Homo sapiens: one gene and its partners. The protein of the gene in region 4 interacts with the protein of the main gene of each other region in a pairwise test. Each region holds a gene or a part of one and is shown on either strand. Other genes may lie near its edges.

Region 1 (8,023 bases), on a different chromosome or scaffold from region 4:
AACAACAAGTCCTAGCTAGCATATGAAACAACATAAACTCTCTATAAGTACCACCATTTTTGTTTTTTGTTTAATGCTAAAGTCTGAGATTTTAGTGCAGTCATCCTAGTATGTACATTGTACTAAATATGTAGTTTCTTATCCCTCACCCTCAGCCAGCCCTCCCCCTTTCTGAGTCTCCAAAGTCCATTATACCACTCCGAATGTCTTTGAGTACCCACAGCTTAGCTCCTACTTGTAAGCGAGACGACCTGGTACTTGGTTTTCCATTCCAGAGTTACTTCACTTAGAATAACAGCCTCTGGTTCCTTCCACGTTGCTGCAAAAGATATTATTTCATTCTTTTTTTAATGGCTGGGGAGTATTTCATGATGTATATATATCAAATTTGCTTTATCCACTCATCAGCTGACACTTAGGTTGGTTCCCTATCTTTGCAATTGTGAAATGTGCTGCGATAAACATACATATACAGGTGTCTTTTTATATAATGACTTCTCTTCCTTTGGATAGATACCCAGTGGTTTCTACAGTGGTTGTACTAAATTACATTCCCACCAGCAGTGTTTAAGTATTCCCTTTTCATCACATCCATGCCAACATCTATTGTTCTTTGACTTTTTAGTAATGGCCATTCTGGCTGGAGTAAGGTGGTATCTCATTGTGGTTTTAATTTGCATTTCCCTGATGATTAGTGACATTGAGCATTTTTTCATATGTTTGTTGGCCATATCTTCTTTTGAGAAAATTCTATTTAGGTCATTTGCCCACTTTTTGATGAGATTATTTGATTTTTTTTTCTTGCTGATTTGTTTGAGTTCCTTGTAGATTCTGGGTATTAGTCCTTTGTCAGATGCATAGTTTGCAAATATTTTCTCCCTACAGGTTGTCTGTTTACTGTGATTATTATTATTATTTTTGCTGTGCAGAAGCTTTTTACTTTAATTATGTCCCAATTATTTATTTTGAAGTACAACCACTTTGGAAAACAATCTGGTATCATCAAAGTAAAGCTAAACACATATCCTATGACCCAAAAAATTTACTCCTTAGGGGTATACCCAAGAGAAATTTTTACAAACAGGCACCAAGAATCAGGCACAAGAATGTCTAGAGGAGGACTATTTATAATAGAAAAACCGTAACAACCCAAATTTCCATTGACAGAAGAATGTAAAAGTTATGATATATTAATTTATTGGAATATCACATAGCAGTGAAAACAATGAAAATGAACCAGAGCTACAATGAAACATGGATAAATCTCAGGAACATAATGACAAACAAAAAAACGCATGTTGTAAAAGAATACATGTAATCATTTTGTTGGTAAAAAAAATTTCAAAAACATTAAAAATACATTTTTTAAGAAATCAAACATGGAAATGCAAATGAATGATAAACACAAAATTCAGGATATGGAATACCTCTTGGATGAGGGACAAAGAAAAAGGAGCCTTCTGTTTTCACTTGTTTTCCTGGTAATGTTCTTTTTAATAAGTTAGATGGTAGGTATATAGGCATTTACTGTATCATGCTTCTTTAGATCCCGTGGATGATTTGCTGTGTTATTTTGTGTGTGTGTGTGTGTGTGTGTGTGTGTATGTGTGTGTGTGTGTGTGTGTGTGTGTGTGTGTGTGTATCTGTCCACAGTTCCTTGGCTAATAACTCCCCTAGCCTTGTTGCAGTCTCGTTATAGTGTTGGGTGCTTTAGGCCTCAGGAAACAGACTCTCTCCAACCTTCTCCTGCTCTCTTCCTTTCACCCTACCTGAAGGCAAGTGTCTAACCCCCACCTTTGTGATGTGGGTCATAAGACTCTCATTCCAGAGAGGGTCCCACCCCATATACCCTGAAGGAATGAAGATTCCATAAAAACCCAAGAGGATTGGGTTCAGAGAGTTTCCAAATAGCTAGCTGAACACTGAACTCATGGAAGCTTGGCATCCCTTCCCCAATACCTTGCCCTATGCATCTCTTCATCTGTATCCTCTGCAATATCCTTTATAATAAACTAGTAAAATAAGTATTTTCCTGAGTTCTGTGAGCTGCTCTAGCAAATTAACCAAACCCAAAGAGGGGGAGCCATGAGAACCCCAACTTGAAGCCAGTCAAGTTTTAAGTTCCGGAGGCCCAAACTCGTGACTGGTGTCTGAACAGGGTGGGAAAGGGGCAGCTTCGAGGACTAAGCCCTCTATCTCTGGGATCTGACACTATATCCAGTCAAACAGTGTAGGAAATGAACTAAAGGACACCCAGTTGGTGTCCACTGCAGAAATGATTGCTCGCTTGGTGGTGAGGAGAAACCCCCATAGGTTTGGTTACAGAAATCATCTGTGTTGATGACTGTTGTGGTATGAGAACAGAGGGAAAAAAGTTTGAGTTTTTTTCCCAAACATTTACTAATATTTTTATTCTACTCAATATCAAAAACAATTTAGAAAACATACATCGACAGATCCTGACTTTATGGTCCTTAAAACTTTAATTCAAAAGCAATATTAAATTATTCATGTAACAACATTCACATTTTTCTCTATCATTTGTTTAGTGGAGTGAGAAGTTAACAGTATTCTAATAGTCAATCCCATCCCTATTACCAGTTAGTGAAATAATCAGTAATAACATAAATCCCCACTCAGAAGACAAAAAAAAGTTATGACATTTTTAAAACCTAACGGAACTTACATTTACCTATTTTATTGAACGACTAAGCCTGTAACTTGCTGGATAAGACAGGGTTAACCTTCAGAATGTGATGCAAAGATTGGTTTGCGTTTTGTACTTAAATCACAGAAGAATCATTAAACACACATTCAAAACACAGAGAAGTCTCTGTTGCCTCCCACTTTATAATGATAAGGGAAGTTGCTAAAGTTACAATTTCACTTATCATTTATATCCTAACCACTCTTTAAAGGCTTGAGCCTGTGACCCAGATAAATGCCACATTAGCAGATAGCAGACCCCAATTAACAGGGGCTTTTCTTGGTTTGTTGTTTTTTGTTTGTTTGTTTGTTTTTGAGACAGTCTTATTCTGTTGCCCAGGCTGGAGTGCAGTGGCGCAATCTCAGCTCACTGAAACTCCACCTCTCAGGTTCAAGAGATTCTTGTGCCTCAGCCTCCTGAGTAGTAGCTGGGATTACAGGCATGCACCATCACCACCCAGCTAATTTTTGTATTTTCAGTAGAAACGGGGTTTCCCCATGTTGACCAGGCTGATCTCGTAGCAAGATATCTGCCCGCCTCAGCCTCCCAAAGTGCTGGGATTACAGGCATAAGCCACGGCGCCTGGCCTTAACAGGGTTTTTAGAAATGCTTTCCAACAGACATGGCACAGCTCTGGTGTATCAGGAAGAAATCTTTACTGAGCCTTGCAATAAGTCAGGTTACTGGAGATAAAAACAGGAGAGAACTTATTTACAACTTACAAAGCATGAGAAGTTCCATGGGGTCCCTATCCTAGTTTCATCCATAAGGTGCCCCACACACACATGCACACACAATGAGAAAGGCAGGCCTCGTTTACAGAGTGTTTTGAATTGCTCTTTATTCAAACCCAGAGACAAGACTGATACCAATCAAGGAAATCAAAGGAAAAGACTTATAATTGTTGAGCTGGGAGCACTACCTGCCCAAGCATGAATAAAAGAATGCTTCATGTTAAAACTGTGAGGTCAGGCGAAGTTCAGGATCAAGCACAAAGGGTTGTAATTACATTTATATTCCATTACATTAAACATTTGATACAGAATGAAGCTCAACGGTTGCTTTATAAAGTATTTCTGCCTATTTAATATCTATCTAAAAGTGTTTGCTATTGCAGTAATACCAAAGACAATTACAGAAGGAGTTACCGTGCCACTGCTTTTCTTCCGAATATCTAGAGCTGGAATGAGCTTAGCTATGCACTTATGTCTGTCACTCCTATGAAATTTACTAAAACTTAACTAAAATTTTGCAAATATGCTAAACATGAAAAAGATTCACCTTAAAAAACCATGACTAAAACTTGATTTCAATCCACAAACTAAGTGAACAGTATAAGATCACATTTCCTATAGCACTTCAATTTCCAAAAAGGTAACTCAAAGACTGGTATAACTTTTGATTGCCTACCAACCAAATGATGCTCGTTTTTTTGTTGTTGTTGTTTTACAAATTCTACTGTAATGTAGGTATATTTCATGCCAAAACTTCATAGATGACCAGAAGGCCCTCAAACCAACAATAATCCACTAACTACACTGTGAGAACCACTGTTCTGGAAAAGGATATAGAATTAGCTTAGGATAGTTCAATTCTGGGTTCATGTACCAAATCCTGTACCATTATTATACGTTCCTGAGTAAGTCAAAATGATTTAAATTTTCGAGGAATATTTATTGAAGAGTAAACAGAAGGTAAAAAATTGAAAAGAAATTAAATTCAACTATAAGTGAATAAACAAATGACAGTACACCCATAACAGTCTTTATAAAGGATCATGTAAATGTAGCCATGACATGACACTACCAAAACACTGGTTAAGACATTAAGGATGAGAAAATTCTCTAAGATTATATGTATTATGGTTGCCATTTTTGTAAAAACATACACAACTGTGTGCACATGAATAAATACGCAAATATGTTCTTAAGAATACACACCAAAATTTCATAGAAATCATCTCTGGGTAATTGATTATCTTCACACATATTTTCTATTTTTCTACAATAAACAATTTATGAAATTATTTTTGTTTTGTTTTAAAAAGACTCATAATTTCTCTTTACCTCATCCTATCTTTTTGCTTATAAGAAGCTATGGCATTTGTACCTAAACTCAGCTAACTTACAGGAGTGTTTAAGGGTGGTCTGAAGTGACATGAGGAATTTAAAGAAAATCCCTATAAATAAAAACGCACAACATGATAATATCTCCTTTAATGAAGATGAATTCCAGAAACACCCTGCACTGGCAGGAATGTTGTTACTGACAGAGAAAGTTTCAGAGGGCAGGGTTGCATTTCAAAGATACTGCATGTTATAACGGCAATTCCTTCTCTACCTTCTAACTCCAACCTACAAGATGCTCAACAAGACTTTCTTCCAGCCAGGTGCAGTGGCTCACACCTGTATAGACAACACTTTGGGAGGCTGAGGCAAAGTGGAACTCAGAAATTCAAGACCAGCCTGGGCAACACGGTGAAACCCCGTCTCTACCAAAAACACAAAAAATTAGCCAGGTGTGGTGGCTCAAACTGGTGTTCCCAGCTACCTGGGAGGCTGAGGTAGGAGGATCACTTGAGCCTGGGAGGTGAAGGTTGCAGTGAACCAAGATCACGCCACTGCACTTCAACCTTGGGTTGACAGAGTAAGATCCCAACTCAAAAAAAAAAAAAGAGAGAGAGAGAAGAAAAACTGTCTTGTTATTTAAAAAAAAAAAAAAAAAAGACTTTCTTCCTGGATTCAGTTAATCATGTTACCTACCACTTCTTTTAAAGAACCTATTATTGGATTTGTCAAAAATGTTCATAAACAAGTAACATTTCCCCTCAAAGATTTTTAAGCCTTCCTTGGTACTGATTTTAATAACATTACATATGAGGTTATATGCACAATAAGGCCCAAATTTACTATATGCTCTACTAGGCACCCTGGATGCTCTCTTAGTCACCTTCTGCTCAACTCCATTGAAGAGGATGCTTCATTAAGCAAAGGAGGGGACTTACCCAAGGTCATGGGAGCAAAATCCAGGTCTCCTTCCACTTACACTATGCTTACTACCTTTTATGCCTTATAAATATAAATAGTTACAGATCACTCAGGTCCCTCCCAGCTGATCCTCTAACCAGAGGAGACAGCAACTGCCCTATGCTATTCACAAAGTTAAACATCAGCTAAAAAACTGAAAAGTAACTAAATTCAACCATAAGCAAATAAATGAGTGTATCAACAATATACTATACTATTCAGTGTTTACAAAGGATAATGTAAATACAGAATTTCTTTGTTTTCCATTGCAAGCCCACTGATGTCTTTTCTTTCATGTAAGGAAATGAGGGCCTACTGTGGGCAAGGCACTTTGGAAAATACAAAAATGAGTAAAACACACCCTCTGTCCTCAAAAAATTCTTACACACAAATGAAAAAGACATACATAAACTATTAAATAGGAAGGAAAACTTCTATTAATAAACACAATCGAACATCAAGAACTCTTGGAAAACTCAATTTTCAAGTAAAACTGGTTGTACTCCTCTAAAGAACAAAAGCTTTCCTTAAAATCAAACATCCTAGGCTGGCACAGTGGCTCATGCCTGTAATCCTAGCACTTTGGGAGGCTGAGGTAGGCGGATCACGAGGTCAGGAGTTACAGACCATCCTAGCTAACACGGTGAAAGCCCGTCTCTACTAAAAATACAAAAAAATTAGCCAGGCGTGGTGGTGCGCACCTGTAATCTCAGCTACTGGGGAGGCTGAAGCAGCAGAATCGCTTGAACCCGGGAGGCAGAGGTTGCAGTGAGCCGAGATCACACCACTGCACTCCAGCCTGGGTGACAGAGCAAGACTCGGTCTCAAAAAAAAAAAAAAAAAAAATTAAGCATCCTAGATAAAATATTTCTACTTTCCTAAACATAAAACAGTATAACAATAAAAAGAGCTAACATTCATTAAGTTTACTAATATGCTAAGAGCTTTACATACTTTGGATTTAGTCTTCATCAAAACCCTGAGATAGGTATTATTAATAGCCCCATTTTAAAAAGATACAGCTGAAAAAGAGAGGTTATTTGCCCAAGTCACATAACTAGTAAATGATGGAGCTGTGATTCAAACACAGCAGTATACCTCTCTATTTTGATGCATTTATCCATTAATTCAAACATTTAATGGCCACCTACTGCATACAGAGCATCATACTGGGAAATGAGAACAGGGCAGTGAACAAGATAGGATCATTCATGAAGTTCACCTTCCGACTAAAAAACAGACATTCTCGGCCGGGCATGGTGGCTCACGCCTGTAATCCCAGCACTTTGGGAGGCCAAGGAGGGTGGATCACCTGAGGTCAGCAGTTCGAGACCAGCCTCAACATGGAGAAACCCCATCTCTGCTAAAAATACAAAATTAGCTGAGCGTGGTGGTGCATGCCTGTAATTCCATCTACTTGCGAGGCTGAGGCAGGAGAACTGCTTGAACCTGGGAGGCGGAGGTTGCGGTGAGTCGAGATCGCACCATTGCACTCCAGCCTGGGCAACAAAAGCGAAACTCCGTCTCAAAAAAAAAAAAAATCCTCATTTTTCTAACAGGTGAGGTAATCATAGATTGCACAAAAGGTCATAAAGGAATAAACAAGGTGGTGTGACAGAGTAACTGGGAATGCCTTACTTCTGTTAATGGTGTGATAGAAAGGCCTCTTGCAGTTTTGTTCTGTTTGTTCCCAAAGACAAGCTGGCCAGACAGCCAGGCCAGGGACCAGAGCAGTAGAAAGAAAGACCTCCTAGTGATCACAGAAGTGTTAAGGAAAATCCCTAATTTCTTCTTTTTGGTTTTTTGTTTTGTTTTGTTTTTGTTTTTTTCTTGAGACGGAGTCTTGCTCTGTTGCCCAGGATAGAGTGCAGTGGTGCAACCTCGGCTCACTGCAACCTCCACCACCCAGGTTCAAGTGATTCTTGTGTCTCAGCCTCCTGAGTAGCTGGGACTACAGGCGTGTGCCACCACGCCCAGCTAATTTTTGTATTTTTAGTAGAGACAGGGTTTTGACATGTTGCCCAGTCTGGTCTCAAACTCCTGACCTCAGGTGATCCACCCGCCTAGGCCTCCCAAAGTGCTGAGATTACAGGTGTGAGCCACCATGCCCAGCCAAGCCCATATTTCATCACAGATGTATAAAGCGCTTAGAATAAGTTACAGTGACTTGATCAAGGTCTCAAGCTGGGATTGGGGGAACAGCTGTGATTTCAGAAGACAGGTGACACTTCGGAAAGGAAAGAATGTAAACATAGCCTTTGGCTAGAGCAAGAGGCTCAGAAGAGGGGCC
Region 2 (8,023 bases), on a different chromosome or scaffold from region 4:
AACTGAGACTGAAAAAAAGATGTAGTATTACCAACTGTGGTGATAAAAATGAAAAGTTTCAGGTGCAATGAGGACCATAAGATGACAAAAGAATATCCAACTTATGTTGTCATTCACAAAAACCTTTAAGCAGGTGACATTTAACCTGAGATCCAAAGGTGGGCAATGGAGAAACACCTCCAAGAAGGGGAATCGTGTATCTACTGCCTGGGTAAAGAGTGCCTGGCTTGTTCAAATAACTGAAACTTTTAATTTATCCATGACTAGCACACACACTGTAGAAGAAATAAGGTATAAAAGTCAAGGTGTAGAGAATATACATTTATATAGTATTATTAATAAGGGGGAATTTTAAAAATATTGCCAAGCCCCTTCTCTAAAGAGCAAAATCAGACAGGATGCTGGATTGAGGGATTAAAGAACAGCTCAACTCTGAGTTCAAAATTCCCAAACCACAAGAAAACTAGATTACACAGTACTTTCTCTCTTTATCTCACATGAATGAGGATCAAATGAAATAATATACTAAAACTGCATAATTCACAAAGCAGTATGTACATTTTAATTGTTAATATAAAAGCATTTCTAATTTCATTTCAGCCTTAATTCTTATTCCAAATATAAAGTGGTATTCATCTTTCAAAATTCTCTACTGCAAATTTCCAAGACATCTCCCTAAAATAATAACACCTTCCTTTTGTCTGCAGTAAATCTGTTTTTCCTATTAATGAAGAATTTAAAAATATTTTTTGCAAAGCCTGTGTCCAACTTACATTCTAATGCATTATAAAGAAATTCAAAATCTTCATTTGTTTTAGGATTATGCCTCCGGTGATAGTCCAATTTTATCCATTCTTCTTTTTCTCTTATCTTCCTTAGTTCTTGCTGTGTTTCCCATTCCAGTCTTAAGCTTTTCTGTCTTCTTAAATTCTCTACGAAGATTTTAGCATGCCATTGCCTGTAGTAAGTCTGTATCACTATCACCTATAGTTAAATTAAAAGGAAATAGAAAGTGCCTATCATCAACTTTTTGATCAGACAATAAAGGCAATGATGATTATTTCAATTCCAATTCCACAACAAAATAACTGAGTCTAGTTTTAGCTCCAAATACATATTTTCACAAACACTAACATAAAAAACATGTATAATGCATGTGACTGCTATTTGACTTTGACATCTCGCAAATATACCTTCCCAGAAGGATGTTTGTACGATCCTTAACAGAATAGACTCTGGAGTAAAACTTAGTTTGAATCTTCCTTCTGCTACTCACTAGTTGTTTGATTGGATAAGTTACTTGCCATCTCTATGCTTTAGTACCCTCATGTGTAAAACAGTGATAATAAGAGTATACATATAAAGTGCTTAACCCAAGCCTGGTACATCATGAGTCCTCAATAAATACTATTATTGTCATACATATTAATTATCTCCATCTTATCTTAAATGCCACTAGCTTAGGCTCATGTTTATAACAAAACTGTGTTTTCCTAAATACACATCAGGTAGGTATGTGTGGAAACCACCAAAGGCAGGTTAGATAAAATGGAGACTGAAGCAAACAAATATTTATTAACTTGTATGAAACATGAATATGTTTGAAAGTACACCATAGTACTAAACCCTCAAAAAGTTTATGATATAGCTGAGAGAGTTTATCATTTTTTTCTGAGAGTTTATAATTTTATTTATTAAACTCATAAATAAAAATAAAATGTGAAGAGGCCGGATCAAGACTGATGATAGAGCTTATGCTGATGCATCCCTTACTCTCATCCTAATGCCTAATAATTGTAGAAAAACTATGTAAAGCAGATATCGACAAAGATACTAGATCAAACTGAAGGGGTCCCCCAAAAGAATAGAAACTTTGAAGAATCCCTTCAACAAAAGAGGCCAGTAGAATTAATTGAAGAAAGAGTCTGTAACCTAATCATGCACTGGAGAAGCAAGTCAGAAAAAACAAGGGGCTCTAGGACTGCTCTAAGCCCAAAACTGATGGATGGTCTGAGCAGAGTGGCCACTAACCAGGTGACTTTAAAAACTGCAAAAGGGATAGGTTCCTCTAAAATAATTAGGCAAGGAGCAACAGAGATATTTGTCCCTAGGCAAGAGTGGTGAGTGTCCCAGAAGGTGACACCCAGGATGAAAAAAAAAAAGCCCCCTATCCAGAAAACTAGGTTTCTCCCATAATCAAGCTTTACATTTCCCCTAAAATCATGGGGTCAGACTGGGTGAACCAATATGCTATTGGCACACTGGACATTAAGAATCTCAAACACATCAGCGGCATCTAGAAAACTATTAGCAATGCAAATTTTCAGGCCCCACCCCAGAGCTATTGATCAGAAACTCCTGGGTAAGCACAGCATTCTATATATTCATGAGCCCTCCAGATGATGCTTATAGTAAAGTTTTAGAACTACTAGAGTAAATCAAAACAAAACAAAATACAAGAGCAGACTAGATATAGTTAATATTTTCACAGAGAAAGGAAAGGCTATCAGTATAAAATAATATAATGAACCAAGAAAAAAGACTGGCAAAAATTTTATTTTTGAAATTTAAAAAATTAATAGAATATGGATTAGCCTGAGTGCTATTAAACTTGTTCAACTTATTTAAAACACCAAAACACAGTTGTTTAAACAACACAGAAGTTTTTTCCCTTTCACATGACAATCCAGGGATTAGCAAAGCAGTTTAGGGCTCGTAGGAAAGCTCTGTCATATTTAACAAATGGCTTCCTACTTATATGTCCCAGATGGCTGGTCCACTTACCATCTTCCAACCAGTAAATAGAGGGAAAAGGAACAAAGAGCATTTTAAGAATGATAACTGTAAGTGGCTCACATTGTCCCTCACATCTCGCTGTCCAGATCTTAGTTATATGGCCTCACTGATACACAAGGGAAGTGATGAAATGTGGTCATCAGTGGAACAGCCACATGCTCAGATAAAGCTTTATTACAATAGGAGAAGGGAAAAAATGGGTATTGACAGAGAACTAGTAGTTTCTTGTAAGCTGATCTGCAGAATGTGTAGAACATAAGAAGTAATAAGTAGGTAAGAAAATTAGGTGAGAAAATCTTTTAGCATGCAGGACAAAGGCTCATAAAAATTTAAATGAATGAATGAAAAATAAGAGACACAAAAGATAAATCCCAGCATTCCAAAATGTTTCCTTTTTTTCTTTTTTTCTTTTTAGGCGAAGTCTCACTGTCACCCAGGCTAGAGTGCAGTGGTGTGATCTCAGCTCACTGCAGCCTCCGCCTCCTGGGTTCAAGTGATTCTCATGCTTCCCCTCCTGAGCAGTTGGGACCACAGGCACGTGCCACTATGCCTAGCTAATTCTTGTATTTTTAGTAGAGACAGGGTTTCACCAAGTTGCCGAGCTTGGTCTCCAACTCCTGGCCTCGAGTGATCTGCCCACTTCAGCCTCCCAAAGTACTGGGATTACAAGCATGTGCCTCAGCATCTGGCCTCATCCCAAAATATTTCTGAGATAAGTTCCAGATAAAATAAGGAAAGTTGATTACAGAAATTCATAAAAACATAATAGAGGTATATTTCCCACAGCAAGACATGGACTCTCGGAAAGGGTACATCACCAAGTCTCAAGCATATTACAATAAGATTACCAAATACCAAGGATAAAGTGAAAATCCTGACAGCTTCTAGAAAGAGGAAACAAAGAAAGGAGGGGGCAGAAAATGAAGAAAAGCCTAGTAAGGTTCTTGACTTATTCATGGAAACGATATATAGGCTGATTAGATATGCACTTGGTATAAAAAAATTAGTTATGTTAAAAAATGTGTATGAGTAACTGTCAGAGGCGTGTGAACCAGAGCAACTCCATCTTGAATAGGAGCTGGGTGAAATGCGGCTGAAACTTACTGGGCTGCATTCCCAGACAGCTAGGCATTGTAAGCCACAGGATAAGATAAGAGGTCAGTACAAGATACAAGTCATAAAGACCTTGCTAATAAAACAGGTTGCAGTAAAGAAGCCAGCTAAATCCCACCAAAACCAACATGGCGACAAGAGCGACCTCTGGTCATCCTCACTGCTACACTCCCACCAGCGCCAAGACAGTTTACAAATGCCATGGCAATATCAGGAAGTTACCCTATATGGTCTAAAAAGGGGAGGCATGAATAATCCACCCCTTGTTTAGCATATCATCAAGAAATAACCATAAAAATGGGCAACCAGCACCAGGCAACCCTCAGGTCTGCTCTGTCTGTGGAGTAGCCATTCTTTTGTTCCTTTACTTTCTTAATAAACTTGCTTTTACTTTATTCTATGGACTTGCCCTGAATTAGTTCTTGTGGGAGATCCAAGAACCCTCTCTTGGGGTCTGGATCGGGACCACTTTTCTGTAACATAACCACTAGAAAAAACAAAATACTTATTTCTGAACTATGAAAGAACAAAAAAAGAAACATTTATTCAAACCAACAAAAAGAAAAGGCTAAAAAAAGCATAAACAAATAAGAATAATTAGTAAATAAAACAAAATGAAATAGCAAGAATGAGTCCAAAAATATCAGTAGTCACGCAAAATATCATCTTTCTTGAAACAAGAAAGATTTAAAATAGTAAGCAGTGAACTCAAAACCTATTAAAAAAATAAAATAAACATGACCCAAGTAGAAAGGAATCAAGGTTAAAAGAACTTATTAAACGGAAATGTACTCCCTATACCGGCTTTTAACAAATTCCTCTGTTAACAGGTCACACCTCACTTCCACCTCCCACAGAACCTCCAATTCACCTTTCAAGACTCTATGGGGCAAATCTATTTGGTTCTTGATGCCATCCTCGTTGGCAGCATTTAGATTTTCACTTCCTCTGCTCTACTAAGTCAAGTTAACACTTTTCCATCTGCTTTAAAACTTCAAAAAAAAAACACAACTCACATTTACTCTTCTCATGTATTCTTTGTCCTTGTATATTTATACTTTTATTCTTTCAATATCATTTTTTGGAGTTTGGAAAATGACAGAAATTTCCATTTCCTTACTTAATATCCATTTTGCCCTACTTTCTCTTACTAAGATTGCAATCTCATTGAGGAGCAATGATATGCTACTTTAAAAATTCATTTATCACACACTTTTGCAGTAGGGATAGTCACATGACATAGTTCAAGCCAATGGGATGCAAGTAGAAGTCACTGGGTGGGGCTTTCCGGGGAAATCCTTGAAGGTGGCATTCATGGAACATGCTGCCTTGACTTTTCCCTTCTTCTCACATGGAATGCAGGCATGATGAAAGTTAGTCAACCATTTTATCTTCATACAGTAACAAGCTCATGATGAGCTTAATGGAGTAGAAAGATGAAAGGAGTTTATGATTCTGATGACATCATAGAGTCACCACCCATGCCCAGTATAGTAAGAAAGTAAAAATTAATTAAGACTGAGAAAGTAAAAAATTGTCAGGCTGGAATAACAGGCACTAATCAGGTCAGCTACAAAATTAACAAAAACAGTATTTCTCCCAAGGACACTCTACAACTATAAAATATTTCAACAATCCCCTTCTTTTAGTGACTGCTATCTTCTTACTCACTGAGAAACTTCGTTCTCTAAATTCAGAAACTATCAGAAACTTTCCTGTCTGAAATTAGATCAGTAAGAAACAAACATTCCACTCTTGCCTAGAGGTTGCACGTCACTTTGACAGAGAGAAGCAGCCTCAATTATACAACCAAGGTGCTGAACTTCAGAGAACTTCTAAGAAACATTTCCCATCTCTTTTAACTTTGTTTCCAAAGGAACGTGACCTTGGTCTACTTCACAGTCCAGACCTAATGTTGGCCCATTTATACACACCCTTGTTTTGCATTGAGACAATCAGAATACTGCTTCCCCTAAATCCCACTCAAACTTCACTCTTCCCCAAATTATATAATAACTCCATATATTCCTTTATTTGGTGAAATTTAGTTTGGACTGAAAAAGTAAAAAATTATCAGGCTGGAATAACTGGCACTGATAAAGCCTGCTATAAAGTTAACCCCATGGTTCCCCTGGTATACTGTCTCCTTCAGGGCAATTAAGTCAACAGACTTAACTTTTTTTCACTACAAGTTTGTCTCTAAAGGTCTTGGGCTGAATAGCCTAGCTCCAGATTTCTTGTCATTTGAAAAGCAAAATCTCTTAAAGTCACTGCTTTCAGGTCATTTTTACTCACAGTAAATTGATGGTAGGAGGTAGATCAAATAGGTTGAAAGTAAAAGAATGAAAAATGAGAGACTATGCAAAAAAATAAAACAGAGTTGGAGCGGCTATGTTAATATCAGAGAAAATCGACTACTGTCCTATTTGGTTTCAATTAGTCTCGAAAGTTCCCTTGGTGATTCTACTGTGACAAGATTTAAGGCCAAGGGACAGCAGTGTTGAGAAGGCTAATAATGGCCAAAGGCAATACACAAAGAAGCTGGGTTTCCCTAAGAGAAAAGGAAGGATTAGGAGCATTTAGGATGCTGGTTCTTTACATGGGGGAATACTGGAGATAAAGACTGCTTTGTTAGCAGTGAAATATGACCCATACTCATGAGCATTCTTTCTCAAGCAAATGTGGCTTGGAGAAAGAGACACACTCGGAACAACTGGCTTATATATCAAATTTTTAGTATTCATCCACAATAAAAGTTATCTCACCGCCTTTAGTCTTTGAGCATGGTATTCTGCTGCTGAAAAATACTTTCCTGGTGTTACCAGTTTATCAGTCATATTTGATACATATACACCAATGTTAGTCATCTGTGTGGATGTTGTATTTGTAGTTTGTTGGAGATTTTTTTTCTGAAAAACTGTCTAAAAGAAAACATTAAAAATTTAAATCAGTATCCCCTATATATATACATAAGGGAGTTTTTCTACATATGTGAGTTCATTTTCTTTTATTAATTGCCATATAATTACTTAAGAGAAATTTGAGAGAGTCATACAGTACAATTATTGAGTCTATACCTTCAAAAACCTAAAGAGACAAATAAAAACATTACCTGCGTATCCCTACAAAATATACTGAGTCTTTCGGGAATCCTTTTAGGTACAGTTTGTGTTCCAGCATTGTGATACTCTACTCCTGTTACTTTATGTCTGAATCCACCAAGAAATGGTTTGTGAAAGTCAGATTTGACAATCTCAACAGGTACCTGCTGGTATTGATCAAGTCCTGAGAGATAACACCAAGATTCAATGAAAGCTCAACCAAGAAGGGACTCAAAAATACTTTATCTAAAAGACATCAAATAACGAACCAGTTTGGACAGTGACAGTTATGATTTGAGAGACATCAGTTAATCCATCTATTCTTCTGACTGGATACAGATCTGGATTTGTAGAAAAGATTTCCACTTGTACAATTTCCTGTGGCTTAACTCCATGTTGTACTAGAGTCTCATTATTTTTAAGAATTTTTCCTAAAAATTGAAATAAAATTTTTAAAAGTTTTATGACAAAGAAATGGCTATTCATTGATCTTATTTTTTGTTTTTAATTGACAAATAAAAATTGTATATATTGTGTACAGCATGCTTTGAACTATGTATACATTGTGAAGTAGCTTAATACAGCTATTAACATGTCCATTACCTCATATACTTATCATTTTGTGGTAAGAACACTTAATATCTATTTTCTTAGCAATTTTCAAATATGTAATATATTATTATTAACTATAGTCACCATTTCTAGAAATGGCTAATTACACATTCTCATTTTAAGGAGATGGAAAATATCAAAGGTGAACTTTGAAACTTTGAACACATATCATTTAATTATTAAATATACTATTAATATATTTACTCATAGGAACACATATCGTTTAATTATTAAATATAGTATTAATAGTTTCTACCTCTTGCTCTGATGTTAGTACAAAAAACTCCATAATAGGAAGAGTTTTAGTGGCATTCTTGAGAAGGAATTCGGCATTATAAATAACACTACATTACTCTCAGTTCATCAGGAATATAAATACATAACAACCATGAAACTCCATA
Region 3 (8,464 bases), on a different chromosome or scaffold from region 4:
AAATATTACCTATTGACACTTAGCATCGTTTTTGCCCTTCTAAGTTCTGTCTCCTATGAGACATTTATCAAACTCTGTTGCTAATAGTATTTCAATCTAAATTCTACCAAGGAGAGGCACTGTTACAAAATTTGCAAGGAGGAAGGGAAAGAGAAGCCATCAATTTCAGTAGTGGCTGCAGGTAACTTTGTGGGTATCAGCAAACGGCAGATGGAATGTTAAGTCAGCAGATTCTGGGCACAAGGAAGTCTTGAGACTTATCTTGTTGTTACAGGTCAGAGGGATCCTTGGCCATGGTTCCTTGTGACTCCTGCTCTTCCTAATATTTCAAACTCTAGCAATAGCTCCTGGACCTTTGCCCTCTCAGCCTTACTAATTGTTGTATAAGCCTCTAAGACTTTATGCATTAAATCCTTTCCTAGAGGAAACATCTATAGTGTTTGACTGAGTCAAAAGCTTTCTTTTCCTGACTGATAAAAATAGCTAGAAATGAAAATCATGGAAATATATTTTGTTTATATACATACTGCATATTGCATATACACACATATATATATTCTGCATGTTTAAACACTTTGTGAATTGAAACATAGTAACATGAAATCACTTCAATCTACCATTTTGCAATACACCATGAAAAAATATCACATCAGTATACTACTGAAAAATCATAGCTTTCACCAAACTAGGCTCATAAGCAGCCATCAGGAATGGTGTGACCCTTGAGGAAAAGGGCTGTAATACGGTACAATTTTTGGATTCTGTTTAGTTTCATGAAATGGAGGATCACAGACAGAAATCCAATGGCAATGCCTGAAGGCAATGGAGGTTATTTTCTGAATTATTTGAATAATTGAGGTAAAAGTGGAGTTTCTGCCTGGATTATTCAGATAATTGTCTTAATTCTAAACTTCACTTAGCTAGCTGGTAGAGACCTTTGTATAGGATGTATTTTTGGAATGCTAAATGCTAAAAAAAAAGAACTCCTAAAGTAAGCAGAGCTGTGGTGTAATGAGGGTGTATTGGGGGTGATACAGAGATACGGAGGGAGAGAGAGAGAGAAAGGAGGAAAAGAGAAGAAGAGAGAGAATGGTAAATAGCTAATCGTCAGAATAAGATTAAACTTTACTTTCTACTTGATAGTAACCAATGTCCACATTTTCATCACAGAATGAACTTTCTATAAAAAGGGAAATACATATGTAGATTTCAAATATAAACCATAGTATTTTAAAAAGTTACGAATTCCTTTTTAAGCTTTAAAGAGGTAAATTTTTACTTTGTAAGGTTTAGAAACTTCATGCCTTCAAATCCAGCAATTTATATAGTGAAGCAAATTGACTTAAAAATTATACCATACTTTTTGTTTTACTTCATATTGTTGGTCTTTGCCGTTTAATTCTTTTTTCTTTTTTGAGTTTCTGAATACCCCAGAGAAGGTAATCTATTTATTATGAATTCTAGGGCTAGAATATCAGCACAAATATGGAAGTATTTTTAGAAGCTATTGTCACCATAGAAATGTTAGCCACCATTTTTGTCTAGTTTCTTTTTCTTTTAAATTTTATTATTATCCCTAAAACTTAATTCTTAAAGACAAAATAAATTAAAAAAAAGAAGAATGATGACATCCATTCTCTTCTTCATTGGTAACAGAACCCTGGGCAGTAAGCCCAGCCCCCAAATTATTTGCCAACCTCCCCCACAGATGAGTGTGTCATGTGACTAAGTTCTTGCCCATAAGCGGAAGTGTTGTGTGAGACTTCTGGATAGGTCCCTTTTTTTCTGGACTCCTTCTGACCTACAATGCCGACAAGGTGCCTCGATCTCCAGCAGCCATCTTGGGTCATAGGGCAACCTTAAGAATGGAAGCCTCACACTAGGATGGCGAAAGATTAAGGTAGCAGGAACCTGACTTCACGATGACTGTGAAGCTACTATATATCCTCTGGGATGCTCCTTCTGCATTTATTTTACTTAAGAGAGTAAAAATGTATATCTTGCTTAAGACACTATTATTTCTAGTTATTGTTATTAGCAGATGAACACAATTCCTAAGTGATACATATATTAAGGTATTAATTGAAAATATTTTGTGATTTCTAGGATTAGATTTCTAGATACGTGTAATAGCTTTTCCCCTATCCCGCCAGGTACACACACATAAACATGCATTCTAATTTGTAAGAAAGAAAACTAAGTGATTATGTGAAGTTGTACCAGTAATATATTTTGTGCAATTGCAAAGGATAATGCTTTTGCAATGTGAATCATGGGAAAATAAGAATTTGAGCATCACTTAAGAATTTTTCAATGTACCTACATGCACTAAAAAACAAACAAACAAAAAACAAAAAACCAAGGCCGGGCGCTCTGGCTCACGCCTGTAATCCCAGCAATTTGGGAGGCCAAGGCAGGCAGATCACAGGGTCAGGAGATGGAGACCATCCTGGCTAACACGGTGAAACCTGTTTCTACTAAAAATACAAAAAATTAGCCGGGCCTGCTGGCGGGCGCCTGTAGTCCCAGCTACTCAGGAGGCTGAGGCAGGAGAACGGTATGAACGCGGGAGGTGGAGCTTGCAGTGAGCAGAGATGGCGCCACTGCACTCCAGCCTGGGTGACAGAGCGAGACTCCATCTCAAAAAAGACAAAACAAAACAAAACAAACCAAAACAGTAGAGAGGAAGACAAGCAAATACAGAAATGGAATTCAGCAACAGAATATTAATAGTTTTTTCTTTATCTTTTGCAATTAATAGCAAGAAAGGAAGGAAAGATCAATCTATTGAGCAGTCAGATGGAATGGTAAAGATTAATCATTCTCTTCCCTTCAGAAGTTGCCTTAATTCTTTGTCTTTTAAGATCCAGCTCTTTTATAAGGCCCTCACCAATCTCTCAGTAGGAATTAACCTCTGCTCTTTATCAGGACTAGAACCAAGCTACAGCGGGTGAGGCATTTGTCTTGGGTACAAAAGTTAAAACTCAGTAATCAAGATAAATATTTTAATGGAATATTTTAATTGGCAAACTAAGGCATGTGGGCCAGTCTCCTGTTTTTGTAAATAATTTTTTAATTATACTTTGCTTTTATTTGTATTATAGCACTTAAATAGTACTTTTTACATTAGCCCTCTCCCAACAGGGCTGTACTCATTTTTGTATTCCTCATGTACCTACTACTCTGTTTGAAGCATAAAGGCCTCTTAAAAAAATCTTGCATTGAGTTGATTAAAGGATTTTTGCAAGAATATATTGTACTGGTGATGGTGGGGTTCAATTTTCATACTGAATTCAACAATAGCAAAAGAATAACAGAATGATGACTATTTTGAAAGTACTTATAATTTAGTGCTGTGGGAAAAATCACTTGGCTTGTCTTTGACTAAAACCCTGCTGAGCTTAGGGAGATAGAGAATTGTAATATTACATTATGTTCATATAGCACTTTTTCCTACATAAAGTGCTTTCTTTTAATCCTCACCTCAATCCTGTAAGGTCGGTATTGCTATCCCTATTTATTGTAGAGAGATTGAGAAATGAGGTGACTTGCCCAGGGAGTTATGGGCAAAAAGAGGCAGAGCTGGGGTTCTAACCCAGATTTTGTCTGTCACAATTGAATGCCCTTTCTGCGATTATAAATCTTATGTCTCAGAGTTGAATGAGAAACAATTTATACAGCAACTACAATAGCATTCTTATCATTAAAATGTTCTGATTATGTGTGTGTGTGTTTGTGTATGTGTGTGTGTGTATGTGTGTGTGTGATGAAGTAGCTGAACTTGGTATTTTTCGGTAGAGGGTAGGAAACTACACATTGAAAAGCCGAAGATGAAATTATGTTATTTGAGTATTACTTTCTAACTATAACTTTACCACTGATGTGTGTATGATATTCTGCAAAGTGACTAAACTGTACGTGTTTGCTTCTTCATGGAAAAAAAATTTGGGAAGGCATTTAAACTTTTCAGCTGAAAAAGGTTATGTCAATGTGAAAGATTATAGTACTCGAGAATTAGGAGTTGATTAAATTTAACGGTTTCCTTTTCATACTTAGGGGGAAAAATCTACGACTGTATTTTAAAACTCCATATGGCAATTAAATTTGAGAGCGTATAACTAACTACTTCACTAGAATTTCCATCAGTATACAATAAACACACAGTCAAAACCTCAAATGTCCATTATTAGCCCATCTAGTAGACGATATTTTATAATTATGGATTCCCCATATTGATTGATGTCCAGAGAAAAACTGCAGTCTTCTCTTACTAAGCTGATAGTTGAGTTCCTGGGAAATCCTCACCCCCTAAGAACAAATAATTCTCAAAGAAATTCAAAGTCATTCCTTTTGGTGAATTGCAATCAGTCATCAATAACTATTTATGGAATGTCCGAAGGGTGCCTAGGCATTGAAATGGCAAGAGACTTATATTTGCTTAATTCAAAGGATTTCTAAAGGCAGTCTGAGGACTTGCAAGAAGTCTTTAAAGATGCAAAGTGGTGTGTTCTTTAACTGCCCCTACCTGGAATGAATTGAACAGTCTGGGTGTTAGGGCTTTGATGTCTAATCCCGCTTTGCAAGCGAAGACTCCACTGGTGCCAAGCGACAGGCGGGCTGGTGGGCAGACATGGCACCACCACCGGGGGCTTTCAGGACTGGTCCAGCCCTCCCAGGCAGGTGTAGGGCCGACTGCAGCAACAGCGGCCCTGACCCCAGCTCCCATGGCTCCCCTCCCCCCGCACTCCCACCCCCCGCACCCGGCACACACCATCTCCCAGTCACCCAGTCTCGACCGGTTCTCGCGAGATCCGGGTTACTGAGCGCTCGGGGCCTTTTCAAATCGGGATCCGTTACCGCTTCCCCGGCAGCCGCCATTGTCGCGCTCGGAGCCCCTCAGCTCAGGCGGCCGAGGCGGAGGCAGCGGCGGCGGGATGGCGGACGCCAACAAGGCCGAGGTGCCCGGGGCCACTGGTGGCGACAGCCCGCACCTGCAGCCCGCAGAGCCGCCGGGCGAGCCGCGGCGAGAGCCGCACCCCGCGGAGGCGGAGAAGCAGCAGCCGCAGCACAGCAGCAGCTCCAATGGCGTTAAAATGTATTGTCTTTTCCTCCGGGAACCGGGGCGAGGTGGGGGGCGGGGAGTCTACCGGGCGGCTAGAGGCCGGGCTGTGCCCCGATGGGGGACAACCACCCCCAGACCCCGGCCCGCCCCCGGGCCATCGGCTTCCTGAGGAGCAGGTGCAGCTGGGCCGCTCCCAGGCCCTTCCCCGCCCGCCCCAGGCCTGGCCGCCTGTGGTCTGGGAGCCGGGGCTGGGGGCCCGGGGACCAGCGCTCTTCCCTGATTTCTAGCCCGAGACAGCGAACACCCCTCTTCCCTGACTTTGGTTAAAGAATCTTTGAGCAAAGCTCAGCGACCGCCACGGTTTGCAGGAAAATGGTCCCCCTTTAAGGACCAGTAGTTAGTGTTCATCACTAGGGAGTATCTAGGGATGACATCATCGGACATTTCCTCTTAACCACCGAGAACATATTTAAAAGGAATATTCCTGGCTTCTTTCTGAGCTTCACAAGTTTAGTGTTTTGTTGTTTTCTAAAGTGTATGTTCATTTTTAAACTGATTTATACCGAGAGGAAGTTTAATAATGTGCTGTTAGACTCTATGTTTTGTGTTACTCTTGAATTGGCTAGACGTACTTTAAAAAGGGAAATGTGCGATGTGCGTGGCTTCCCTTCCCACTGGGTAATGTGCGTCAGCTGTGGAGAGTATTTTTTTTTTTAACTCAGTGTATGATTATCTTAAGTTTGGTATAATAGATGGTTAAGATTTTTTTTTTCCCAAATGAAGGAAGACTTTTAAGGTCGCAGCTGTCACCAGTGCCTATAAAGAATTTAGTTGACCCCAATCCATAATAATTTCTGGTTCTAGGGAAATGTTATGCTCTCCTTTGTTCCTGTCCTGTGGGAGGATATGAAGTTAAGCGCTTACTTTCATATGCCTACCTCCTTAAACCTGAAGTTGAAAGTATGTTAATAATTAAGTGAAAACATCCTTTTCCTTCTCTGTTATGCCTCAGAGCAGAAAGCAATAGATATATGCTCACAGTAAAATAGACAAGGGAAAGGTCTTTCTGACCTTTGTATAAGCATGTTTGAAATTGTATGGTAAGAACTGGACCAGTCTGTGTAAAAGTTGGTGGCAAAAAAGATGGGGTAGCTCTCCCCAGCTCTTTGACACTCTTGCTCTCAAATGAGTTTGAACAGGATCGGCAGCATCTTCTAGGAGAATAGAGGTGCAGGTATAAGAGATTGGAACTTAGTGGAGTTTATTCCTGGATGAAGAGTGGTGCACCTCAGTAATTGAGGAACCAGAAAGGGAATGAAGTGCTTTCTACCATGCTTGCCAAAATGTGGGCTTTCTGGAATTTGGCATTAAAAATAGAAATGAAAACCGGTGGAATGATAAACTTAAAAATATGTGCTATTCATATCTAAACACGAGTATACATGCCACCTTTTCTCCTGAACAAAAAGTGCAGCCTTGAATTACAGAGAGAAGCCCTCCTATACTTGGGTATGATTAGTTTTGATATAGGGGAAGTTTGGTATCTAAACCTCCATCAGATTTTCTATTCCCTTCTAAAGTCTCTTCATGATTTAGCAAGACAGGAAAAGAGAAAGGAGAAAGGTGGAGAAAGAATCCTTTTCTAATTTAGGAAGAGAAAAATATAAGGTGAAGAAATGAAGAAATATTACTAGTAAATACAGATTATTTCCATATTGCTTATAATTCGCCTCTCCCTTTCTCTTTTTCCCAGAAGTTGAATCGAGTCCAATTTACTCTCAGGGATTTCTCTTACTGTCTATTCCATAAGAAGATTTGTGATGGTCCAGCATGAGTCATTCAAACTGAATAACTAGCGACCTAGTCCTTTTTTTTTTTTTTTTTTTTTTTACTTCGTGAACTAGTAGGAGTGGATAACAACCCCAATACATAAACCTTGAGTTGATTACCATATACTTTTAATAATAAAAATAATTCATTGTTGATTATAAAAATTACCATAATATTGCCCCAAATTATGTATTGGTTGGAATTGAACAGAGTACTGCTTGTCATCAGGATTGAAATAATATTTGCTGAGGTTAATCCATAGTTATTGAGGGTGGGAGACCACTATGTCTTATTCTTCTTTGTATTCTTAAGGCCTAGTAAATATTTGTGGAAGAAATGCAGAAGTGAACTTTCATGCTTATGAAACTCATATACAGGGAATTTAGTTTGCATATTCACACCTTTAGAAAAGATCCGTTTTCCAACTGTAGTCTTCTTCTTTAACGCCAAATGGTATACTAGCTCTCCTTTTCTTAAAAATGAATAGGAGGGAAAAGAGCAGTATTATTATAACTTTATTATTCATGTGTAATTAAGTATAACTTTGGAGTAGGTAGAGATTGAGAGTTATATTAGGGTACTATAAAATATTAAGCATTGGAGCAAGGTAATGTGTTCTTTAGCTGAGTGATTTTTATTAGGAATAAAGACTAGAACTGTTTCCCCCAGCTTTATTGAGGTAAATTGACAAAAATTGTATATTTTGAAGTGTACAGTGTGATGGTTTGGTATACAAATAAATTGTGAAATGATTACCACAATCACGCTAATTAACGTATCTGTTACCTCGCATAGCTACCATATTTTTTGGTGTTGAAAATACTTAAGATCTATTCTTTAAGCAAATTTCAAGTATACAGTAAATATGTTAAGTATAGTCACTATACTGTACCTTAGATCTACAGAACTTACTCATCTTATAACTGAAAGTTTGTGCCCTTAGAACATTTCCCCATCCCCTGCTGCCCTCCACCTCTGGTAAACACCCTTCTACTCTCTGCTTCTGAGTTTGACTTTTTTAAAAGTCTGTGTGTAAGTGAGATCATGTAGCATTTGTCTTTCTGAGTCTGGCTTTTTTCACATAGCCCAATGTCCTCTAGGTTTATCTCTGTTGTTGCAAATGGCAAGATTTTGTTCTTTTTGTAAGGCTGAATAATAATATTCCAGTGTGGATGTGTTGTGTAAACATAAAATATAATATATATCATGTTTCCTTTAATCATTTATCTGTCAATGGACACTTAAGTCGTTGTTTCCATATCTTGGGTATTGTGGATGATGCAGCGAACATGGGAGTGCAGATATCTCCTTGAGATAGTGATTTCATTTTCATTGGATATATACCCAGAAGTGGCATTGATGAATCATGTGGTAGTTCTGTTTTTAATTTTTTGTGGACCCTTGATGCTGTTTTCCATAATGGCTGTACCAATGTATATTCCCACCAGCAGTATCTAAAGGTTCTTTCTCCACGTCCTCAGCAACAGTTGCTATCTTTTGACTTTTCGATAAGTCATCCTAACAGGTATGAAGTGATATTGCAGTCTGGTTTTGAGTTGTATTTCCCTGATG
Region 4 (8,023 bases):
GTTTTAAAATTAAAATATGTATATTCTTTTATAATCGCTAAGATAAATGTGTCTTGAAAATTTTGGCAACAGTGATGAAATACATTGTTTTGAAAAGTTCAAGGAGAAATATCAGAGAAATTGTCAATACTGAAAGTTATATGCAGTTAGAAATTTCTTGGTGCCTAAAATAACTTTATAAATAAGACAGCTAAGCCAGCCAGAAATTCAATGGTGATTGCACTCAAAACTCTTCAAAGACCACTGAAGAAGGGAGGTTCAATGAAATATACTTTAAAACTAAACATGTTAAAATGTTCATCCTCACCACCCCAAGACCTAAACTCTGATACTACCAGAGTCTCCATAAGAACAGACAAGCAAACCAAATCCAGCAATATATGACCAAATGGTACAGGAATACCAGTTTGGTTTAACATTCAAAACTCAATTCCATGTTCATGGATTGGAAGGCTCAATATTGTCAAGCTGGCAATACCACCATCACCCCAATTAAATCTACAGATTCAATGCAATCCCAATCATAATCCCAGCTGTCTTTTTTACAAAAATCGATAAAGCTGTATCCTAAAATGTATATGGAAATCCAAAGGACTCAAAATAGTCAAAACAATGTTGAAAAAGAAATACAAAGTCAAATGACTTACAGTCCAGATTTCAAAATGTATTACAAAGATATGATCATCCAGACAGTCTGGTAATGACATAACGATAGCCCAGTGGAAAAATAAATCAATAGAAAAATATTAAGAGTCCAGAAACAAACCCTTACTTTTATGGTCAACTAATTTTCGACAAAATTGCCAAGGCAATAGAATGTAGAAAGGGTTTTTTTCAATTAAAGGTACCGAAACAACTGGGTATCCACATGCAAAAAGGTGAATTTAGGACATCTCACACTTTAAACAAAAATGACCTCAAAATGTAAAACAAAAATGACCTAAATGTAAAAGTTAAAACTATAAAATTCTTCTATGAAAACACAGGAGTAAATCTTCGTGACCTTGGGCTAGACAAAAATCTCTTCAGATACAACAGCAAAAGCATGAGCAATAACAGAAAAACATTGATAAACTGAACTTGATCAAATTAAAGACTCGTGATTTCAAAAGACACTGCTAATGAAGTGAAAAGACAAGCCACAGAATAGAAAAAAATATCTGCAAAGCAGATATCCAATAAGGGACCTGATACAAACAACATCTGCAAATCAATATTAAGACAATCCATTTAAAAATGAGCAAAAGACGTGGAAAGATATTAAACCAAAGACGCTATAGGAATGAGCAATAAGCACATGAAAAGACACTCAGTATCATCATTAAATAGGGAAATGCAAATCAAAATCACAAGGAGCCCATGTGCCTGCAATCCCAGCTAACTGGGAGGCTGAGGCTAGAAGATCACCTGAGCCCAGGAGTTCAAGACCTAGAACATTTTTCGTTGCTATCAGCAATGTATGAAGATTCCAATTTCTTCAAATTCTCAACAACACTGTTATCATTTGTCTTTTTGGTTATGGCCATTTATGTGCATGTGAAGTAGTATCTCATTGTGTTTTTCTTTGTTTTCAGACAGGGTCTCATTATGTTGCCCAGGCTGGTCTTGAACTCCTGAGCTCAAGCAATCCTCCAGCCTCAGCTTCCCAAGGCGCTGGAATTATTGGCCTGAACCACCAGGCCCGGCCGATAATTCTTCATAACAAAAACAGTCACTTTAGGAGGCCGAGGTGGGAGTCTGAGACCAGCCTGGGCAACATAGCGAAACCCCGTCTCTACAAAAAAATACAAAAAAAAAAAAAAAAAAAAAATTAGCTGGGAATGTTGGCATGTGCCTGTAGTCCCAGCTACTTGGGAGGCTGAGGTGGGAGAATTGCTTGAGCCCACAAGGTATAAGGTTACAGTGAGCCAAGATCGCACCACTGCACTCCAGTCCAGGCAACAGACCAAGACCCTGTCTCCAAAAAGAAAAAAAGGAATAATTCTAAAAGACTTATATTGATTTTTTTCCCCAATTAACATTAAACGCCTCCACCTGCCCCGTGGGAAATTGGGTTGGCATGTCACTGAAAGGCAAGTACAATATATTCAGACTTGAGAACCTGAGTCAGCTAAAATCACGGGTATCCAAGAGAACAGCACAGCTAGCTACAAACACAAATAGCCTATCTTGAAGTGACGGGTGGAGGGGTTCAAATAAAAGAAAATTGCTTTCTCAGTTCTTACTATGTATCTTATATGACTTAAGAAAACATCTCACTCCAGCTGATTTCAATTAAGTGCAAAAGGCACCTCAGCAAAGAGCATCTTTAAAAGGAGACTACACAAGCTACATGCTGGCTCCTCCTCTCCTGGCCTAGAAAACCCACGGCTGCTCACTCTACTCTCTACTGGTCACATGACAGGCCCAGTGGACAAACCTAATGCAACTCAACACAAGAACTATGTATGGGTTATTCCTTAGGGCTAGTATATCTGATCTCCCGAATCCATGGCAACAACACTTACTATCTAACCACTAATTTTCACCCCAACCCACCCCCCAATACTGTAAGGATGTCTGTGTGATCACTGTAATCAATGCAGCTTCCTATGCCTGAACTGTAAACCATCGGGCAAAGCTCCCCGGTGGCAGGGACTGGAGGAGGTGATGCCAAACCATGCTGTTCTGGGACACCTGTCCATATGCCAGCCCTAGGTGCTCACTCCTGAAGCATCCTTTAAGAGTCAGGACTATGGACTAAAAGTTCTGCTGCAACAACTCTTGCCAGTGGCTGTAAACAAACAGCCTAGTTCCTTCTCACCCTAGTAGCCACTCCCTATCTAGCCTATTTACAACATCAGACTGTATTTCTCCACCAAACCATCTTTTTTTTTTTTTTTTTTTTTTTTTCTTAGCAGGGTCTCACTCTGTCACCTAGGCTGGAGTGCAGTGGCATGATCTTGGCTCAGTGCAGCCTCAACCTTCCAGGCTCAAACAATCCTTCCACCTCAGCCTCCCAGGTAGCTGGAACTACAGGCACACACTACCACGCCTGGCTAAATTTTGTATTTTTTGGTGGAGACAGGGTTTCACTATGTTGCCAAGGCTTGTCTTGAACTCCTAGGCTCAAGAGATCTGCCCACAATCTCCCTATCTCTATGCTGGACTTCTGGGACCTCAAATGACTTGCAACCATCTGAGAATTCCAGTCCCGATACAAACATTAGTGACAACTCACTCATAAGATCATCCATAGCCAGCTCTGAGGAACAGGTGGGCATAAACCCCAAAGCAATTCTTACTCACCACAAATGTCTTTTTAAAAAAAGAAAAAAAAAAAAAAAAAGGCCAGGTGCAGTAGTAGCTCATGCCTGTAATCTCAGCACTTTGGGAGGCTAAGGCAGAAGAAACACTCGAGTCCGGGAGTTCAAGACCAGCCTGGGCAATACAGTGAGGACCTCATCTCTACAGAAAAATTTTAAAATTAGCCACGTGTGGTGGCACACTCCTACAGTCCCAGCCACTCATAGGAAGCTGAGGTGGGAGGATCACCTGAGCCCAAGAAAGTGAAGGATGCAGTGAGCCAAGATCGTGCCCCTGCATTTCAGCCTGGGTGACAGAGCAAGACCCTTTCTCAAAAAACAAACACCACCACCAAAAACCCTCATCACTAAAAAAAAGACATCACTTCTAAAATCCACAGTGTACTTTTGGCCTTTCAACAGATCAGGAAATTACCACCAAAGAAAAGGCCAGGCGCGGTGGCTCACGCCTGTAATCCTAGCACTTTGGGAGGTCGAGGTGGGCGGACTGCCTGAGCTCAGGAGTTCGAGACCAGCCTGGGCAACATGGTGAAACCCCATCTCTACTAAAAATACAAAAAATTAGCCAGGTATGGTGGCGCCACCTGTAATCCCAGCTACTTCGAAGGCTGAGGCACGAGAATTGCTTGAACCCGGGAGGCAGAGGTTGCAGTGAGCCGAGATCATGCCACTGCACTCCAGCCTGGGCGACAGAGTAAGACTCTGCCTCAAAAAAAAAAAAAAAAAAAAAAAAGGAAATTACCACCAAAGAAAAGATTACTGGCTGCCTTTTTAGAGAGAACCTGCAAAGTGGTAGATTTACCACAGTTCAAACCTGGCTTTCCATCTTACAGGGCAGAGTGACATTAACCAAAACTACAAGGCAGACCTGTGAAACCACAATGCCAAGAACCCACTGTCTTAGGAACCAAACCAGGTTCATCCTCTTGACATAGACAGGCCCATAGCAGTGGTCAAGAAAATCAGCAGTAGGAAGCTAAGAAAATCAGCAACAGGAAGCTGCTTGGTGACCACAGGATCTGATCAAGAGGGCCAGACCGGCAGAGCACTGACCAGCATCAGGCTTACCCAGCCCGATGAACCTACTTCATACTACCAGACAGCCATCTCCACTAAGAGGCACAAAAGAGCCCTCTCTCCAGGACAATTACTAATTGACTAAAACTACCGGAGTGACACATTCATTCTTTAGCTTTATTATACATCCAGTCAGGTCATCCAGGAAGTTATTTTATTTCTCTAATGTGCCCACAAATTGTTACTCTATTACGTTATGCTTCCCCCTCCGCTCCCCACAAGACAGTCTCACTCTGTCACCCAGGCTGGAGTGCTGTGGCACGATCTTGGCTCGCTGCAACCTCCTCTTCCTCCTGGATTTAAGCAATTCTCGTGCCTCAGCTTCCTGAATAGCTGGGATTATAGGCATGCACCACCACACCTGGCTAATTTTTGTATTTTTAGTAGAGACAGGGTTTCAACAAGTTGGCCAGGCTGGTCTTGAACTCCTGGCCTCAAATGATCTGCCTGCCTCAGCCTCCCAAAGCAATAGGATTGCAGGCATGAGCCACAAACCCCAGCCATACTGCATTATGCTTTGATCTACAATTTAGCTCTCAAGAAAGTAATTTATAGGCCGGGCACGGTGGCTCATGCCTGTAATAACTAAATGAGATAATGTTCAAAGAACCAAAAAAATACCACATAAGTCAAACAAATGTAAAGACTGAACTATTCATTCACAAAAACAATTATTTTTCCAGTGATTGCATGCTGTTAAAAAATATATATATAAAGAACACTTTGATACAATTGAAGAAATGTGATTATGAACTGTTAGATAACAGAATCAATGTTGAATTACTTAGATGTAGGAATGGGGATGTGGGTGAGTAGGACAATATTCTTATTCTGGAAAGATGTATGTTGATATTTTGAAGGGTAAAGCATCATGATGTCTACAACGAATTGACCCACGAGTCTTTCTGTATGGAGACATGGAGCAGGTGTGGCAAAATGTTAATAACTGCTCAACTGAATGAAGAAAATACCAGGATCTATTGCACTGAATTTTTTTAAAATTATTCCATGGGTTTGAAAATTTGCAAAATAAAAAATGTGATCTTAAGACTCCCTCAGGAAGGAAAAAAACTTGTAACACAATGTCAAGATAACCTCTTATGTGAACACAAATATTCAATAAGGCTGGGTGCGGCAGCTCAGGCCTGTCATCCAAGCACTTTGGGGGCCCCAGGCAGGCGGATCGCTTGAGATCAGGATTATCAAAGCCACCCTGGGAAAGATGGCAAAACTCCATCTCTACCAAAAATACATAAAACAGCCAGGCATGGTGATGAGCACCTGTAGTTCTAGCTACTCAGGAGGCTGAGGTGGATGGATGGCTTGAGCCCAGGAGGTGGAGGATGCAGTGGGCCAAGACTGCACCACTGCACTCCAGCACAGCAATTGAGCCAGACCCTGCTTCCATCGATGGATCAATCAATCAATCAGTCAATCAATCCCTAAAAAGATGAGCAACGGCCTTATCAATATTTAAGGCTACTATATATAACTTGAAATGCTGCATTTGAAATGTTCAAATATACTGCCTGTGTCTTATAGAAACAATAAATGCTTGCATTTTAAAGCTTCAAATGTTTCTATTTTAAAATTTAGCAAAAAAATGTATAAAAACCATTGATTCTTGCTTTTATCTCATTTCTTGGGGGAAAAACAAAAACAGAAACCATGGACGTGTTCAAAGTATTTTAATGTCCAAAATGAACTGTTTTTCCTCCAGTTTCCATAGAAAATATAACTGACATAAAAAGTATCCCACCACTACAAGGAAATAATCCAGCAAATGCACTCCTGGGTTGAAACAGGGCAGAATGCCAGCTCACCAATGTGAACAGTCATGCAGGCTGTCATGCAGGGCTTTCCGAAGCACTGAGTCCTTGTCATAGATGCCCCAGGTAGCTTGTAGAACTGAATCAAGTAGGCAGTCTCCTGCAGTCCGGTTCCAAAGTGCATACAGTCGACTGTCCAAACGTGTAGCCAATTCCAAGGACCAGTTAATAATTGGAGATTCTTCTTCTAATTCTGTACGATGGATTTAAATACATGTTCATTTCCATACCTATGTCATTAGAGAATACTCATGGGGAGAAGAACCTATTTTCTAGCTATAAAATGGTTTATATGTAATTTACCAATAAACACCTAAATAAAATTGACCAATTGAAATATAAACTTTTGAGTACTTGAAACATCTTCTGTCTCTAGAATAATTTAATAAACTTTTAAATTCTTTACAGTTTTATTTTCTAAAAAGTGTTTCATATAGAAATATATACATTCTGGAACAGGAAGCGGAGAACCAAGGTTTTAAAATTTTTGTATCTTTATTTGTTCACTCTGTAACAGTGAACCATACAATATAACACTGAACTTCAGGACTTTACGTCTTTAATTTAAAATAAAAATAAAGCAAGTTGACTACACACCAAACTACACCATGCCTTACTAAACAAAACTTACTTGATCAGATGAAAGGTAAATTATACTCATTAATTCCATGCTTACCTTTTTGAACGTCTCTATCAAGCACCTCATCAAATAATTTTTCTTGGACTGTTGGGGGCAAATCTTCAATATCTACAAAGAAAATGCAAACTTAAAAGATCTTTTGTTTCATAACTTACACTTAACTTATACTTAATTACACTTATTAATTACCTACTAGTAACTTTCTCTAAAATAACTCCCTTTCCATTGAAGGTTATCAGATAGCTTTTTCTTAATATACCAGTGTAACATGTGTGATATAAAATATTTCTTTTCTGGGCCGGGTGCAATGGCTCACGCCTATAATTCCAGCACTTTGGGAGGCTGAGGCCAGCATACTGCTTGAACTCAGGATTCTGAGCCCAGCCTGGGCAACACGGCAAAACCCTGTCTCTATACAAAAAATATACAAAAATTAATCAGACAAGGCAGCAGACACCTGTGTCCCAGCTACTCAGGAGGCTACGGTGAGAGAACTGTTTGAGCCTGGGGAGGCCAAGGCTGCAATGAGCCGTGATCCTGCCACCGCACTCCAGCCTAGGCGATAGAGTAAGACCCTGTCTCAAAAAATAAAAATAAAAAATAAATTTTTAAAAATCTAATCATTCTGGGGTAAGCTTAAATACTCAGAACAAGTGCATTTCAAATGAAACTTCCTCCAGTTTCAGAAAACTTAGTTACTATCTCCTACAATTTGTAAAAATCCGTTTGTCTGAACATAAAAATTAAAAACACTGAGATCTAGCCTGAGTAATACTGCGAGACTCCATCTCTACAAAAAAATTAAAAATTAGCCAGGGGTGGGTGGCATGTGCCTATAGTCCTAGCTACTCAGGAGGTCAAGGCAGGAGATCACTTGAGCCCAGAAGTTGAAGGCGCAGTAAGCTATGATCACGCCCATTGCACTCTAGCCTGGGCAACAGAGCAAGACCCCGTTTCAATCTAAAAAAAAAAAAAACAGCAACAAAACAAACAGATCTCAGAATCTCAGATGAAAGATTTTAGAAACGTTTGGTGTTTGGTGTATTTATTCAATGCCAACTGACAAAACGCATTCTGGAGGATGTTTTCAACTGTCAATGAATTGAAAAATGAAAAGTTCCTTCACAAACATAGTAGAAATAAATGAGTAAAAAAGGAATGACATATTCAAG

The links.
Region 1: the proteins of ZRANB1 (region 4) and METAP1 interact in binary tests that used the Homo sapiens proteins (3 or more experiments, as listed by UniProt).
Region 2: the proteins of ZRANB1 (region 4) and IQUB interact in binary tests that used the Homo sapiens proteins (3 or more experiments, as listed by UniProt).
Region 3: the proteins of ZRANB1 (region 4) and MYEF2 interact in binary tests that used the Homo sapiens proteins (3 or more experiments, as listed by UniProt).

The regions. Positions count from the first base shown.
Region 1 is NC_000004.12:98,998,065-99,006,087, reverse strand, and holds part of METAP1 (methionine aminopeptidase 1), read right to left. Parts: intron 1-8,023. UniProt on the Homo sapiens protein: Cotranslationally removes the N-terminal methionine from nascent proteins. The N-terminal methionine is often cleaved when the second residue in the primary sequence is small and uncharged (Met-Ala-, Cys, Gly, Pro, Ser, Thr, or Val).
Region 2 is NC_000007.14:123,495,923-123,503,945, forward strand, and holds part of IQUB (IQ motif and ubiquitin-like domain-containing protein), read right to left. Parts: intron 7,442-8,023; coding exon 7,280-7,441; intron 7,195-7,279; coding exon 7,022-7,194; intron 6,831-7,021; coding exon 6,675-6,830; intron 985-6,674; coding exon 774-984; intron 1-773. UniProt on the Homo sapiens protein: Adapter protein that anchors the radial spoke 1 (RS1) complex to the A microtubule of outer doublet microtubules in axonemes. The triple radial spokes (RS1, RS2 and RS3) are required to modulate beating of the sperm flagellum.
Region 3 is NC_000015.10:48,174,708-48,183,171, reverse strand, and holds the start of MYEF2 (myelin expression factor 2), read left to right. Parts: upstream 1-4,876; 5' UTR 4,877-4,934; coding exon 4,935-5,095; intron 5,096-8,464. UniProt on the Homo sapiens protein: Transcriptional repressor of the myelin basic protein gene (MBP). Binds to the proximal MB1 element 5'-TTGTCC-3' of the MBP promoter. Its binding to MB1 and function are inhibited by PURA.
Region 4 is NC_000010.11:124,972,581-124,980,603, reverse strand, and holds part of ZRANB1 (ubiquitin thioesterase ZRANB1), read right to left. Parts: intron 6,960-8,023; coding exon 6,888-6,959; intron 6,405-6,887; coding exon 6,206-6,404; intron 1-6,205. UniProt on the Homo sapiens protein: Ubiquitin thioesterase, which specifically hydrolyzes 'Lys-29'-linked and 'Lys-33'-linked diubiquitin. Also cleaves 'Lys-63'-linked chains, but with 40-fold less efficiency compared to 'Lys-29'-linked ones.